Linked DNA regions of Homo sapiens. The protein of the gene in region 2 interacts with the protein of the main gene of each other region in a pairwise test. Each region holds a gene or a part of one and is shown on either strand. Other genes may lie near its edges. The genes, in order: TPM3 and TNNT1.

Region 1 (7,062 bases), on a different chromosome or scaffold from region 2:
AAAAAGAGTTGTTGGGGCTTCATCTGTTTGCTGTGGATCCCTGATCCTTGATGCTAATCTGCCTCTTTGTATCTTTCCCACTAACCCTGAAAAGAAGCCACATTTCTCAGGCTGAAGTGTCTGGCTCTCTTTTATTATTCCTGCTGCCACCTCTTCCTTTTTTTCCTCTTCCTTTTTCCCAGTTTGCTATCTAGATTGATGCTAGTCCTTCTCACCTAGAGTATCCTTACTTTTTCATACAGATAATTATCACCGTTTCTGCTCTGTTCTGGATCTGCCCCCTTTACTCCTCGGGGAACCCAAGGCCCCACTCTCGCTCTGGATTCCATTTGGGTCAGCCTGGCTGGTCCCCAAGGCATTAGGATGGGGGAGCAAAAAGCAACTTATGTATTTTCTTCCACCCCCACCCCAAATTAAAATGTTAAGCTGCTGGAAACCTCATGCCACCCTGCATTTGTGTCATTGACAAAGCTGTTGCTGTCCCTAAGAAGGAGCCTTGGGGGTGTGATGTGGGGAAGAGCTATTGTAGGCTCCCCCTCCTCTGACTTATGTAATCAAAGCCACTTTTGTGTGTGTCTATTTTTTCTTGACATTTAAACTCAGCTGATCTGATTCTACCAGAGTGATGGATTTAGTACAGGTTACTCAGGATAGTAATTTTAGTTATACTCCTCAAGCTGAACAAGATTAAATTCCTTATTTCCAGGTTCTTAAATCATCCTGCCTGCAGTGTTTCCATTCTCTCTTCAGGTATTCCTCCTTTGGTGTGGTGTCATTGAGAAGCCATTGAAGTGACTCTCAATACACATTCTGTACCCTTTTACCGGTGGTTCAAATGGTGCATCCTCAGAACACCCAGTGAACCCAATACATTATTGCTAAGATTGACTAATTATGTCAACTCCAGTCACAGAAAAATACACAATGGATAGAATTCTGGACGGTTTTTTTACTTTTTCTTCTTTAAACCTTTCTTACATATTTGAGACTTGCTACCATTTGCCTGCTAGTGTGTGACTAGTGGGATATAAGATAAGTGATAAATTATTATTGGGAAAACTAAAATGACCAATCATGCATATTTCAAATAATGTGCATATGAGGCTAATGATTTATTACATACATAAATTTCTGCTAGTAAAATTTTCCTTGGTTCATATTGTGGAATTAAATATCAACATTTTAGAAATTCCCATTATAGGCCGGGCGTGGTAGCTCACGCCTATAATCCCAGCACTTTGGGAGGCTGGGGCAGGTGGATCACCTGAGGTCATGAGTTCGAGACCAGCTCGGCCAACATGGTGAAACCCCGTCTCTACTAAAAATACAAAAATTAGCTGGGCATGGTGGGTGGGTGCCTGTAATCCCAGCTACTCGGGAGGCTGAGGCAGGAGAATCGCTTGCACCTGGGAGGCGGAGGTTGCAGTGAGCGGAGATCGCGCCACTGCATTCCAGCCTGGGCAACAGAGAGACTCCATCTCAAAAAAAAAAAAGGAATTCGCATTCCAATTTACACAGCAGAGATTTCTTAATAGTATAGCTGTGAATTATACTAATCCAAGCACGTAAGTGTTGTTCACTTAGTACTTTAGTTTCCCAGCAGGGTATGTATTTAAAATTTGCTTTTCTTTTAGCTGGGTGCAATGGCACTTGCCTGTACTGCCTGTAGCTTCTTGGGAGGCTGAGGCAGGAGGATTGCTTGAGCCCAGGAGTTCTGCACTGTAGTGTGCTATGCAGGTCAGATGTCCTCACTAAATTTGGCATCAGTATGGTGACCTCCTGGGAGTGGAGAACAACAAGGTTGCCTAAGAAGGGGTGAACTGGCCCAGGTCGGAAATGGAGCAGGTCAAAATTCCTGTGCTGATCAGTAGTGGGATTGCACCTATAAATAGCCACTGTAGTACTCCAGCCTGGGCAACACAGCAAGATTCCATCTGTTAAAAACACTTTTGCTCTTCTTTTAAACAGATATAATCAGGTAGGGAAGTTTTCCTTAATCTAAAACTTTAAGTCATATCAAATTCACGTTTCCTTTTGTCCATTCCATTTCTTACTGCCGCATAGCCTTTGAGATTAAGGTTCAGATTCATTTATTCAGCTGACACTTCCTGGTATCTTCTAGGTATAGGATATTAAGATGGAGACAGAAATAAAGATGGAGGCACCATTCCTACTCTCAAGTTGCTTAGAATCTACTAGGAGAGAAAACATACATAAAGCTACAGATACTGTGTGATGAATGCCACAAATAATAGTGTTATGGGAATTGAGTAGAGGGGACGAGATTGATCCTAGTGGGAATGAATTGGAAAAACTCATGGAAGAAGGCATGTAATGGGTACTTCATAAACATGTTAAAACTTTTTTCTTTTTTTCTTTTTTTTTTTTTTTTTGAGACGGAGTTTGACTCTTGTCACCTAGGCTGGAGTTCAGTGGCCTGATCTCAGCTCACTGCAACCTCTGCCTCCTGGGTTCAAGCAGTTCTCCCACCTCAGCCTCCCGAGTAGCTGAGATCACAGGCGCCTGCCACCACACCCAGCTAATTTTTGTATTATTAGTAGAGGTGAGGTTTCACCATGTTGGCCAGGCTGGTCTGGAACTCCTGACCTCAAGTGATCCACCCACCTCAGCCTCCCAAAGTGATGGGATTACAGGCTTGAGCCACTGCGCCCAGCCAACATGTTAAACTTGCATATTCATTTTTATTGGGTTCCAAAAGTGGATTTTTGACAAGCAGAGTTGGGTTGTGGGATAGTGAATATTGAGCATTCCATTATTTATTTATTTTTCTCTTTTTGAGATGGAGTCTCGCTCTGTCACCCAGGCTGGATGGAGTGCAGTGGTGAGATCATGGCTCACTGCAACCTCTGCTTCTTGAGTTCAAGCGATTCTCCTGTCTCAGCTTCCCGAGGAGCTGTGATTACAGATACCCACCACCATGCCCAGCTGATTTTTGTATTTTTAGTACGGACGGGGTTTCAGCATGTTGGCCAGGCTGGTCGCGAACTCCTGACCTCAAGTGATCCACCCGCCTCTGCCTCCCAAAGTGTTGGGATTACAGGCGTGAGCCACTGCACCTGGCCTGAGCATTCCATTTAAAGAGAAACAAAATAATAAAGGCATTGATAGAGATGAGAAGGCCACAATAGCTCTAAAGGTAGATTTAGACAGAGTAGGGAACAGGTTGTGTCTTAAAATGAGGCTGAGGAGTTATAATTTTACTTGGAGTTAATGGGGATGCCACTGGAGATTTTGAATAGGATATGTTGTGATCTGAATAACATATAAGAAGAATTAATTTGGTAACTAATTTGCAGATTAGCAAAGTGATTCACTAACATGGTGTTTCTCACATTTCAGCCATTTATGTTACCATTTTTGATGGCTTTTTCCATATTCATTGCTGCCTACATTGTTTTCTTCAGATCTACTCATTTCCAGATTTATTTTGTTCTTACTTGACACAATTCTATTTTGAAATCAAAGTTTTGATGTGTTAGTGTTTTTTCCTAATCACATTAAAGTAACTATAGCAGTGAATACACCACACTTTGGAAAAAATTGGGTTAGGTTAATTTAGTTTTCTAGGAGAGAATAATCAGGGTCTGAGCTAGAGTAGTGGCAGGAGAGATAGCACTAAATAAAGACAGGCATTGTGAAAGGCCTGGCCACTTGATGTGAGGAGGAAAGACAAGGATGACTGGTTTTTAGAGTAGGAGAATTAGCCGGGTGCAGTGGCTCATGCCTGTAATCCCTGCACTTTAGGAGGCTGAGGTGAGAGGATTTCTTGAATCCAGGAGTTCGAGACCAGCCTGGCAATAAAGTGAGAACCTGTCTCTACAAAATATAAAAACTTAGCCAAACATGGTGGTGCGTGCCTGCAGTCCTATCTACTTGGAGGGCCGAAGCCAGAGGATCCTTTGAGCCCAGGAGTCTGAGGCTGCAGCAAGCTGTGATCACACTGCTGCACTCCATCCTGGGTGGCAGAATGAGACCCCCCCCAAAAAAAGAGTAGGAAAGTGGTGGGGTTAAAGATGTAGGGAGATCATGTTGTCCTGGTTTGGGGAGCTGGGGGAAGGGAAAGAAGATACGGCTGACAATCTGGCAGGTATCTGGGTGAAAACAAAATTCTAGGGCGTGAGGCAGAGAGGTTGACATAAGAGAGTTGGGAATCCATATGGGGTACAGGTAGTTTATGCCATGGAGGTAAATTAGAACCATGAAGGACAATTGCAAATACAAAAAAAAGAGGCCAGGCACGGTGGCTCACGCCTGTAATCCCAGCACTTTGGGAGGCCGAGGTGGGCGGATCACGAGGTCAGGAGATCAAGACCATCCTGGCTGACACGTTGAAACCCCGTCTCTACTAAAAATACAAAAAATTAGCTGGGCGTGGTTGCGGGCACCTGTAGTCCCAACTACTTGGGAGGCTGAGGCAGGAGAATGGCGTGAACCCGGGAGGCGGAGCTTGTAGTGAGCTGAGATTGTGCCACGGCATTCCAGCCTGGGTGACAGAGCAAGACTCTGTCTCAAAAAAAAATTAAACAATGAGGAAAACGTTATGTAAGAGGAGGAACCAAATGGAACTGATTGGAGGGAAAGAAGACGGTTGAGTAGTTCTTTAAAAAGTTCCGGGTTGGATGCTTTCTAGTGGTTTTTCAACAGAGAGGCTAAGAAGGAAGATAACTGAAAATGGGACATGCATTGATACTTTAGTAATTTGAGGGTACATTTTGAGTGTTAAGAAGTGAAGAGGAGGAGTCATTTTCAGGGGCAAAAGAGTGTATTGGTAGGAAGATTATATAGGCAATATAATTTACTTTAGAGCAGGGCTTTCCAACAGAACTTTTGGTAATGATGTCTAGTACATTAGCCACATGTGGCAGTCAAGCACTCAAAACATGGCTAGTGTGGCTGAGGGGCTAAAATTTAATTGTATTTCATTGTAGTTCATTTAAATTTGGCTACCTGTGGCTAGTGGCTATTATATTGGACAATGCATTTCTAAATATTCAGATCCTGGGCAGAAGTTGGCTTTGACATGAAGAAAGACTTCTTAGAAAGGAAGGAAGTAGACCGGGCATGGTGGCTCATGCCTGTAATCCCAACACTTTGGGAAGCCGAGGCAGGTGGATCACAAGGTCAAGAGATCAAGACCATCCTGGCCAACGTGGTGAAAACCTGTCTCTACTAAAAATACAAAAATTAGCTGGACATGGTGGCACATGCCTGTAGTCCCAACTACTCGAGAGGCTGAGGCAGGAGAGAAAAAAAAGAAGGAAATAAGAGGGAGATTGGGAGAAAAGTAAGGTGTTATAGCTCTGATCTGTGGTATCTCCTGTTTTCCTTGCGGTATGACTAGTGTGAGCCAAGGATAGAGACCAACAAACTGGGGTACCAAAGTGGACAATGAAGTACTATGTAATTAGTGCTAATGCTAAATTCATTCCTTTGTTTAAGGCTTAATATCCTTGCAGAAGCCATCCTGTGTTACTTGAGCCTGGACTAGTATTGGGGTGAAGTCAAGCATCAGAGTAAAACATTTGTCCCCTTAATGTTACCCCCTCTTAATTTCTAAGAACCACAGGCCCATTTTGCCCTTCCTTGTTACCATCATTGAGATAAGGAATAAGATGTAGTAACCCCAAGTTATCTGATAGGTACAACTGACCTATTCTGTTTGGCAGCTTTATCTTAGACCTATTCTGTTTGGCAGCTTTATCTTAGCCCCAACCAAATCTCTTCCTTTCACATGGTGTTGGTTGAATACTATCCAACTCCATGGGGTTGGTTTGTGTTTTTTTTTTTTTTTTTTTTTGAGACGGAGTCTTGCTCTGTTGCCCAGGCTGGAGTGCGGTGGTGTGATCTTGGCTCACTGCAAGCTCCGCCTCCTGGGTTTAAGTGATCCTCCTGCCTCAGCCTCCTGAATAGCTGGGATTACAGGCACGTGCAACCAAGCCCGGCTAATTTTTGTGTTTTTAGTAGAGACTAGGTTTCAACATGTTAGGCTGATCTCAAACTCCTGACCTCGTGATCTGCCCGCCTCGGCCTTCCAAAGTGCTGGGGTTACAGACTTGAGCCACTGCACCTGGCCATGGGGTTGTTTCTTAATTAGATATAGCTGAAAAGAACGCTAGACCAAATAGGTTCTCTGCCTTGCCTTTTCGTTTGTTTTGTTTTAGCTATTATCAGGGAACCAAAAACTTTAAGGAGCTAGTACTGGTCTTAATTTTTAATAACTAGAGATAGCAGAGTTAGAAACTAAGTTCAAAGTGAGAGAACAGCTGCATTTGTCTTTCTGACCTCATGCAATTCCTAGGAAACTCTGTGTTCTGTGATTTAGTCAGGCAATAAAATGCTCTCACTCCTTCTCTGTCTCTTTATTTCTTCCCTAAATGGAAAAGAATTGACCAGGCTGCTTTGAGGGATAAAGATCCTGATAACGCGGCTGGGTGCGGTGGCTCATGCCTGTAATCCCAGCACTTTGGGAGGCGGGCAGATCACCTGAGGTCAGGAGTTCAAGACCAGCCTGGCCAATATGGTGAAACCCCATCTCTACTAAAAAAAAAAAATGCAAAAATTACCTGGGCGTGGTGGTGGGTGCCTGTAATCCCAGCTACTCAGGAGGCTGAGGCGAGAGAATCGCTTGAACCTGGGAGGTGGAGGTTGCAGTGAACCAAAATCGTACCATTGCACTCCAACCTGGGCAACAAGAGTGAAACTCAAAAAAAAAAAAAAAAAAAAAGGATCCTGATAACATCCTTCTTTCCCAAGTGAGAATCACACAAACTAACTTGGTTATAGGTATTATCTAAATTCAGGCTGTTCACGAGATCTATATGTAATGTAACATCACAGGAAATTTGAGAGATTAGTTCACAAATTTCAACACCTGTTATTTTGACAAGGACGCCCCAGTGAATAAGACAGGTCCAATCTCAGGCCTCATGAAGCTTATATACCATTAGTATAGTTTTGAGTATTCCTTATTCAAAATGCTTGGGAGCAGAAGTGTTTTGGATTTTTGCTTTTTTTTTTTTTTTTTTTTTTTAATATTTGCAT
Region 2 (7,274 bases):
AGGCTTTTTGTACACCCAGCACTCCGTACCTGAATTAGTTTCCTTTCTGTTTTTGAGATGGAGTCTCGCTCTGTCACTCAGGCTGGAGTGCAGTGGTGCAATCTCTGCTCTGTTCACTGCAACCCCCACCTCCTGGGTTCAAGTGATTCTCCTGCCTCGGCCTCCCAAGTAACTGGGATTACAGACATGTGCCACCATTACCAGCTAATTTTTGTATTTTTAGTACAAACAGGGTTTCACCATGTTGGCCAGGCTGGTCTCAAACTCCTGGCCTCAGGTGATCCACTTGTCTCGGTCTCCCAAAGTGCTGGGATTACAGGCGTCAGCCATCGCGCCTAAACTTAGTTTCCTATCACTGCTGTAATTTGCAAATTTAGTGGCAGAAAAACAATGCAGATTTGTTATCTTACAGCTCTGCAGATCAGACATCTGAAATTGGTCCCCCTGGGCTGGAATCAAGTTGTGAACAGAACCAATTTATTCTGGAGGTTCTAGGGGAGAATTCATTCCCTTCCCTTTTCCAGCTGCTGCCTGCATGTCTGGGCCCATGGACCTTCTTTCATCTTCAGAGGCAGCCATGCAGCATCTTCAAATCTCTCAGTCTGACCCTCTGGCCTTCCTCTTATAAGGACCCTTGTGATGATCTTGCCCTTCCCCACAGGTAATCCAGGACAACCTTCCCATCTCAAGATCTTTAATTTAATCACATCTGCAAAATCCCCTTCACAGCTGGGTGACGGGCAGGTGGCTGTAATCCCAGCTACTCGGGAGGCTGAGGCAGGAGGATCACTTGAGCCCAGGAGTTTGGGAACAACGTGGGCAACATAGAAAGACCCTATCTCAAATAAAAAAAAATAATAATAATAGTAATAATGATGACAATGGCCAGGCATGGTGGCTCATGCCTGTAATCCTAGCACTTTGGGAGGCCAAGGGGGTGAATCACCTGAGGTCAGGAGTTCAAGACCAGCCTGAACCAACATGGAGAAACCCCATTTCTACTAAAAATACAAAAATTAGCCGAGCCTGGTGGCAGGTGCCTGTAATCCCAGCTACTCAGGAGGCTGAGGCAGGGGAATTGCTTGAACCAGGAGGCGGAGGTTGCAGTGAGCTGAGATCGCGTCACTGCACTCCAGCCTGGGTGACAGAGCGAGACTGTCTCAGAAAAAAAAAAAATTAAAATTAAAAAAAAAGGGAAAAGAAGAAAATGGAGAATCCAGGCCGGGCACGATGGCTCATGCCTGTCATCCCAGCACTTTGGGAGGTGAAAGCAGGTGGATTGCTTGAGCTTAGGAGTTGAAGACCAGCCTGGACAACATGGCAAAATGCTGTCTCTACAAAAAATAAAAAAATAAAAAAAACTAGTGGGGCAGAGTGGCGCAGCCTATATAGTTCCAGCGACTCTGGAGGCTGAGGTGGGAAAATCATTTGAGCCCAGGAGGTCCTAGTTATAGTGAGCTAGGATCACACCACTGCACTTCAGCCTGGGTGACAGAGCAAGACCCTATTTCCAAATAAACGAATAAAAAATAATAATAGGCCGGATGCGGTGGCTCACACCTGTAATCCCAGCACTTTGGAAGGCTGAGGTGGGCGGATCATGTGGTCAGAAGATCAAGACCATCCTGGCCAACATGGTGACACCCCATCTCTACTAAAAATACAAAATTTAGCCGGGCGTGGTGGTGCGCACCTGTAGTCCCAGCTACTGGGGAGGCTGAGGCAGAAGATTCGCTTGAACCTGGAAGGCAGAGGTTACAGTGAGCTGAGATCGTGCCACTGCACTCCAGCCTGGGCGACAGAGCTAGACTCCGTTTCAAAGAATAATAATAATAGTAATAATAATAATAATAATAATAATAACAAAATGGGCATCCGGCTGAAGAAGTAACATTTGGGCTCTCAGGGCAGGGGAGGCACCCACCGCCAGCTTAGCCTGACGTTCGCGTTCCTTCTCAGTTCTGAAGCGCTGTTGCTCGGCTCTCTCTGACCGGCGCCGCTCCTGGGAAACGGAGAAGCATAAGGGGGTGCAGGGACGTACCCCCAGTCTTCCTTCCCCAGAGTAGGCTAATAAACAGATTGGAGTGTGGCCACCGACTTGGGTGAATTCGCGAAAGCCTAAGGCTCAGCTCTGTACTAGGAGGAAAACTATTATCTGCATCTCCCAAGATGCAAGGGATCCACATGGAGGGAGGAAGACCGGGGGGAACCCGGACTCTCGGCTCACAATGCGCTCCTTCAAGGCAACCAGCTCCTCTTCCTCCTTCTTCCGCTGCTCGAAATGTACATCGATGAGTGTCTGCAGCTCCAGCAGGTCTTTCTCCATGCGCTTGCGGTGGATGTCCTGCAGGACACACGGGCAGCCCGTCCTAGGAGACCCTGGAGGGGGCAGCAGCCTCCCAGCACCTCCCCCATGCAGGATGGTGAACTGAACCGTTTCCCAGGACGGTATCCAGCAGGTGGCAGCAATGCCTCGTGTTTGACACTAATCAGCTCTTCCAAGGACAGGCTTCCCAAAGACGGGAGTGGGGAGTGGGGACCGGCGCCTTTTTTTTTTTTTTTCCTCCCAGGCTGGAGTGAAATGGCGCGATCTCGGCTCACCGCCACCTCCGCCTCCCAGGTTCAAGCGATTTTCCTGCCTCAGCCTCCCGAGTAGCTGGGATTACAGACACCTGCCACCACGCCCGGCTAATTTTTGTATTTTTAGTAGAGACGGGGTTTCACCATATTAACCAGGCTGGTCTCGAACTCCTGACCTCAGGTGGGTCACCTCAGCCTCCCAAAGTGCTGGGATTACAGGCATGAGGCCCCGCGCCCGGCCGGCGCCTTTTCATGATTGACACAAAGGCCCCTTAAAGACTAGCAACTGCGCCTGCGGAGGGGTCTCTTGTCACTTACATCGAAGTCAACGCGCTCCCCTTCTGGGATCTTTGGCGGGATCAAAGGAGGCACCACGGGGCGGCTGAGTGGACAGAAACACAGAGACCATGAGTGGCCCGACCTCCCTGAGCCACCTCCCACCTCCGGGATGTGCCGTCCAGTGAGGTAGCCGCCAGCCCCGGGAGGCTCCTGAACGTGGAGGGTCCCAGCTGAGGCGGGCTGTCAGTGAAACACACAAAAGAAGGTAAAATACCTCACTACTCATGTTTTTTTGGTTGTTGTTGGTTTTGTTTTGTTTTTTTGACGGAGTCTTGCTCTGTCACCCAGGCTGGAGTGCGGTGGCGCCACCTCGGCTCACTGCAAGCTCCGCCTCCTGGGTTCACGCCATTCTCCTGCCTCAGCCTCCCGAGTAGCTGGGACTACAGGCGCCCACCACCAAGCCTGGCTAATTTTTCTGTATTTTTAGTAGAGACGGGGCTTCACTGTGTTAGCCAGGATGGTCTCGATCTCCTGACCTCGTGATCCGCCCGCCTCGGCCTCCCAAAGTGCTGGGATCACAGGTGTGAGCCACCGCGCCCGGCACTAATCATGTTTTATACTGATTACATGTTGAAATGATAAAACATTATATAACAGATTAAAAAAACTGTGCTATGAAAATTAATTTTTCCTATATTGTTGTACTTTAAAAAATATGCCTAGTAAGAATTTTTTTTTTTTTTTTGAGACAGAGCCTCACTCTGTCACCCAGGCTGGAATGCAGTGGCGCCATCTCTGCTCACCACAACAACCTCCACCTCCCAGATTCAAGCGATTCTCCTGCCTCAGCTTCCCGAGTAGTTGGGATTACAGGCGCCTGCCACCACGCCTGGGTAATTTTTGTATTTTTAGTAGAGACGGGGTTTCACCATGCCGGCCAAGCTGGTCTTGAACTCCCGACCTCAGGCGATCTGCCTGCCTCAGCCTCCCAAAGTGCTGGGATTACAGGCAGGAGCCCCTGCGCCCAGCCATTTTTAAATTTTTTGTAGAGATGGCGTTTCACAGCCTGGGCGCGGTGGCTCACGCCTGTAATCCTAGCACTTTGGGAGGCCAAGGTGGGCGAATCACTTGAGGTCAGGAGTTCAAAACCAGCTTGGGCATCATGGTGAAACCCCATCTCTACTAGAAATTAAAAAAAAAAATTAGCTGGGCATGGTGGTACGTGCCTGTAATCCCTGCTACTCAGGAGGCTGAGGCAGGAGAATCGCTTGAACCCCGGAGGCAGAGATTGCAGTGAGCCGAGATCGTGCCATCGCACTCCAGCCTGGGTGACAGAGGGAGACTCTATCTCAAAAAAAAAAAAAAAGAGATGGCGTTTCACTATGTTGTCCAGGGTGGTCTTGAACTTCTGAGCTCAAGTGATCCTCCCGCCTCAGCCTCCCAGAGTGCTGGGACTATAGGCGTGAGCCACTGCGCCCAGCCTTTAGTAAGAAATTGTAAGTGACGTGTGTGGCTTGCCATCTATTTCTATTGGGTGGTGCCGCTCTGAGGCTCAGCCCTCAGCCTGCTCTGATTTCCTGCCACTTCCTTGGAATTCTCTTTTCTGGGTTTCTGAGACAGTGAAGAGCGATTCCAAGATGAAGCAGACAGGACTTAGGGGATGCTGGGCAAGGGGAGGGAAGAGGTGAGGACAATCCCCAAGGGTCTCTGGGCCAGGGGGCCAAGTGTACAGCAGGGCCGTCATCTCCATCTTGGAAAAGTCGATAAGCTCCATCAGGGCGTCATGTGTGGGAATAAAATATGGCTTACCATATTGTACAGGAATGAATACCGGCTTGCCTCCCACCCCTCTGGCTGTTCCATCCCTATCTCCTGCCCCGACAGCCCCGTGAGCTGCCAGTGAGCTTTCCTTTTCCCTTTTCTCATCATCAATGCCATTCACTCCAATGACTTCAGGTATCATCAACTGCTGAGGACTCGCCAACTGTCTCTGGTCCAGACTCTCTCCTAAGCCCCAGACTCAAGCTAACAGGTATCTCCTGAACTTTTCCCACCTTCCCACACATGACGTCCTGATGGAGCTCACCAACTTCTCTGAGAAGGAGATGGCAGCCCCACTGTCCACTTTGTTCCCCAGCCCAGAGACCCTTCGGGGTTGTCCCCATTGCTTCCCTCCCCTTGCCCAACAATCCCCAAGTCCTGTCCCTTTGCCTTGGAATCCCTCTCAGTCCATTCCCCCACCCCACCCCACCCCCTTTTTTTTTTTTTGAGATGGAGTTTCACTCTTGTTGCCCAGGCTGCCGTGCAATGACACGATCTTGACTCACTGCAACCTCTGCCTCCCGGTTCAAGCGATTCTCCTGCCTCAGCCTCCCAAATAGCTAGGATTACAGGTGCCCACCACAATACCTGGCTAATTCTTTTGTATTTTTAGTAGAGACAGAGTTTCACCATGTTGACCGGGCTGGTCTCAAACTCCTGACCTTAGGTAATCCGCCCCCCTCAGCCTCCCAAAGTGCTGGAATTACAGGCATGAACCACTGCGCCCGGCCCCATTCCCTTATTTTTATTTATGTTTTAGAGACAGGGTCTTGCTCTGTTGCCCAGGCTGGAGTACAGTGGTGTAATCATAGCTCACTGCAGCCTCCAAATCCTGGGTTCGAACAATCCTCCTTCCTCAGCCTCCTGAGTAGCTGGAATCACAGGTGTGTGCCACTGTGCCCGGCTAATTTTTTAAAATTTTTTGTAGAGATGTGGGGGATCTCATTTTGTTACTTAGGCTGATCTTGAACTCCTATCCTCAAGTGATCCTCCCACCTGCCGCTGCGCAGGCAGAGGGCACAGTGTGTGCAAAGGCTCAGGGGTATGAAAGCACAGGCATGGCTAGAGAACCATGAAACGCTGTGTGTCTGTCAGTGGGGAAGGCAGATGCCGGAAAGGTCCGCTGGAGCCAGATGGGGAAGGCTTTGAATGCAGGCTAGTTGCTTTGACTGCGTCTTAAGAGTAGTGGGGAGTTGAGGAAAGATTCTGAGCAGAGGAGGGGCAGGGTTAGCTCTGGTGTTAGAAAAGTCTCTCTCGAGTCATGGAGGAGGATGAGCCACAAGTTGTAGGCAGGGAGGCCAGAGAGGAGGCTGGGGTGATGGTAAAGGCGCGAGGGGAAGAGGGACCACTGGGTGGAAAGAAGGAAACAGACTGGCTGGGCATGGTGGCTTGCGCCTGTAATCCCAGCACTTTGGGAGGCCAAGGTGGGAGAACTGCTTGAGGATAGGAGTTCAAGACCAGCCTAAGCAACATAGCAAGACCTCATCTCTACAAAAAGAAAAAAAAAAAAAAAAACCAGGTGTGGTGGCACATGCCTGTGGTCCCAGCTACTCAGGAGGCTGAGATGGGAGGATTGCTTGAGCCCAAGATGTTGAGGCAGTGGGCCAGGATTGGGTCACTGCACTCTAGCCTGGGTAACAGGGTGGAGACTATGACCACGATGAAGAAGAAGGGGAAGGAGAAGGAGAAGGGGAAGGGGAAGAAGAGGAAGTGGAGGAGGAGGAGGGAGGAGGAGGGAGAGGAGGGAGGAGGGAAAGGGGGAGGGAGGAGGAGGAGGAGGAGAAATGTCGACTGCTGTTTCAATTTCCTCCCTCCATCTCTGCCTTTCTCACACCTTGTCTCTGGGGGTAGAGGGAATATTTAGGAAGATGTATGACTGGGGCCCCCCACCCTGTAGGATCTCACCTTGGTTTGGGGCGTTCCTCTTCTGTTGGTGGTGGGGGATAAAAAGAGATAATTAGCAAGAGTTTAGAGGAGAGGGGCTAGGCCTGACACACCCTGGGGAGGGACCCCCCAAGCCTCGGCCCCCAGGACCCCAGGGAAGGACTCTGGAGTCCAGTTCTGGAGGAGGGGGGATGGGGAGAAGAAAAGAGGGAAGGAAAGTCAGGGTGGCTGTAAAGGAGGAAGAGGGTCACACGCATCAGATATACATTCAGAACTGGTGTGGGGACCCCCCACCCCCACTGTCTGCACACCCAGGAGTGCAAACCCCCAGACCTTTCTCTATTTATATGCCCAGAGCTCCTGCTCTCCTCCATTAGGACCCAGCAGTGCAGGGGGTCCCAACCTCTGTCTTCATTCAGTGACCCCAGCGCTCTCTCCCCAGCTCGCCCCCTGCCCACCGCCCCACCGCCCCCCCGCCCCCGGCCCGACCTTGGAGACCCTGACTCCCAGCGCTCGCCTCCTCTGCAATCCTAAATTCCAAGCCCCAACCTTTGAATGTATATGGGGGAGAAAATAACAGACAAGGTTGGAGGCGAAGATAAGGGGGGATGGGGTGGTGCTTCTCCGCAAACATCCAACCCTTCTGTAAAGATTCCTCCAGACTGGGGAAGAAGGCTTGGGTGTCGGTCCCTTTAAGAAGGAAGGGAAAG

Evidence for each region.
Region 1: the proteins of TNNT1 (region 2) and TPM3 interact in binary tests that used the Homo sapiens proteins (3 or more experiments, as listed by UniProt).

What each region holds. Positions count from the first base shown.
Region 1 is NC_000001.11:154,161,121-154,168,182, reverse strand, and holds the end of TPM3 (tropomyosin alpha-3 chain), read left to right. Parts: intron 1-242; coding exon 243-246; 3' UTR 247-6,370; downstream 6,371-7,062. UniProt on the Homo sapiens protein: Binds to actin filaments in muscle and non-muscle cells. Plays a central role, in association with the troponin complex, in the calcium dependent regulation of vertebrate striated muscle contraction.
Region 2 is NC_000019.10:55,138,959-55,146,232, forward strand, and holds part of TNNT1 (troponin T, slow skeletal muscle), read right to left. Parts: intron 6,608-7,274; coding exon 6,586-6,607; intron 2,963-6,585; coding exon 2,899-2,962; intron 2,345-2,898; coding exon 2,228-2,344; intron 2,003-2,227; coding exon 1,925-2,002; intron 1-1,924. UniProt on the Homo sapiens protein: Troponin T is the tropomyosin-binding subunit of troponin, the thin filament regulatory complex which confers calcium-sensitivity to striated muscle actomyosin ATPase activity.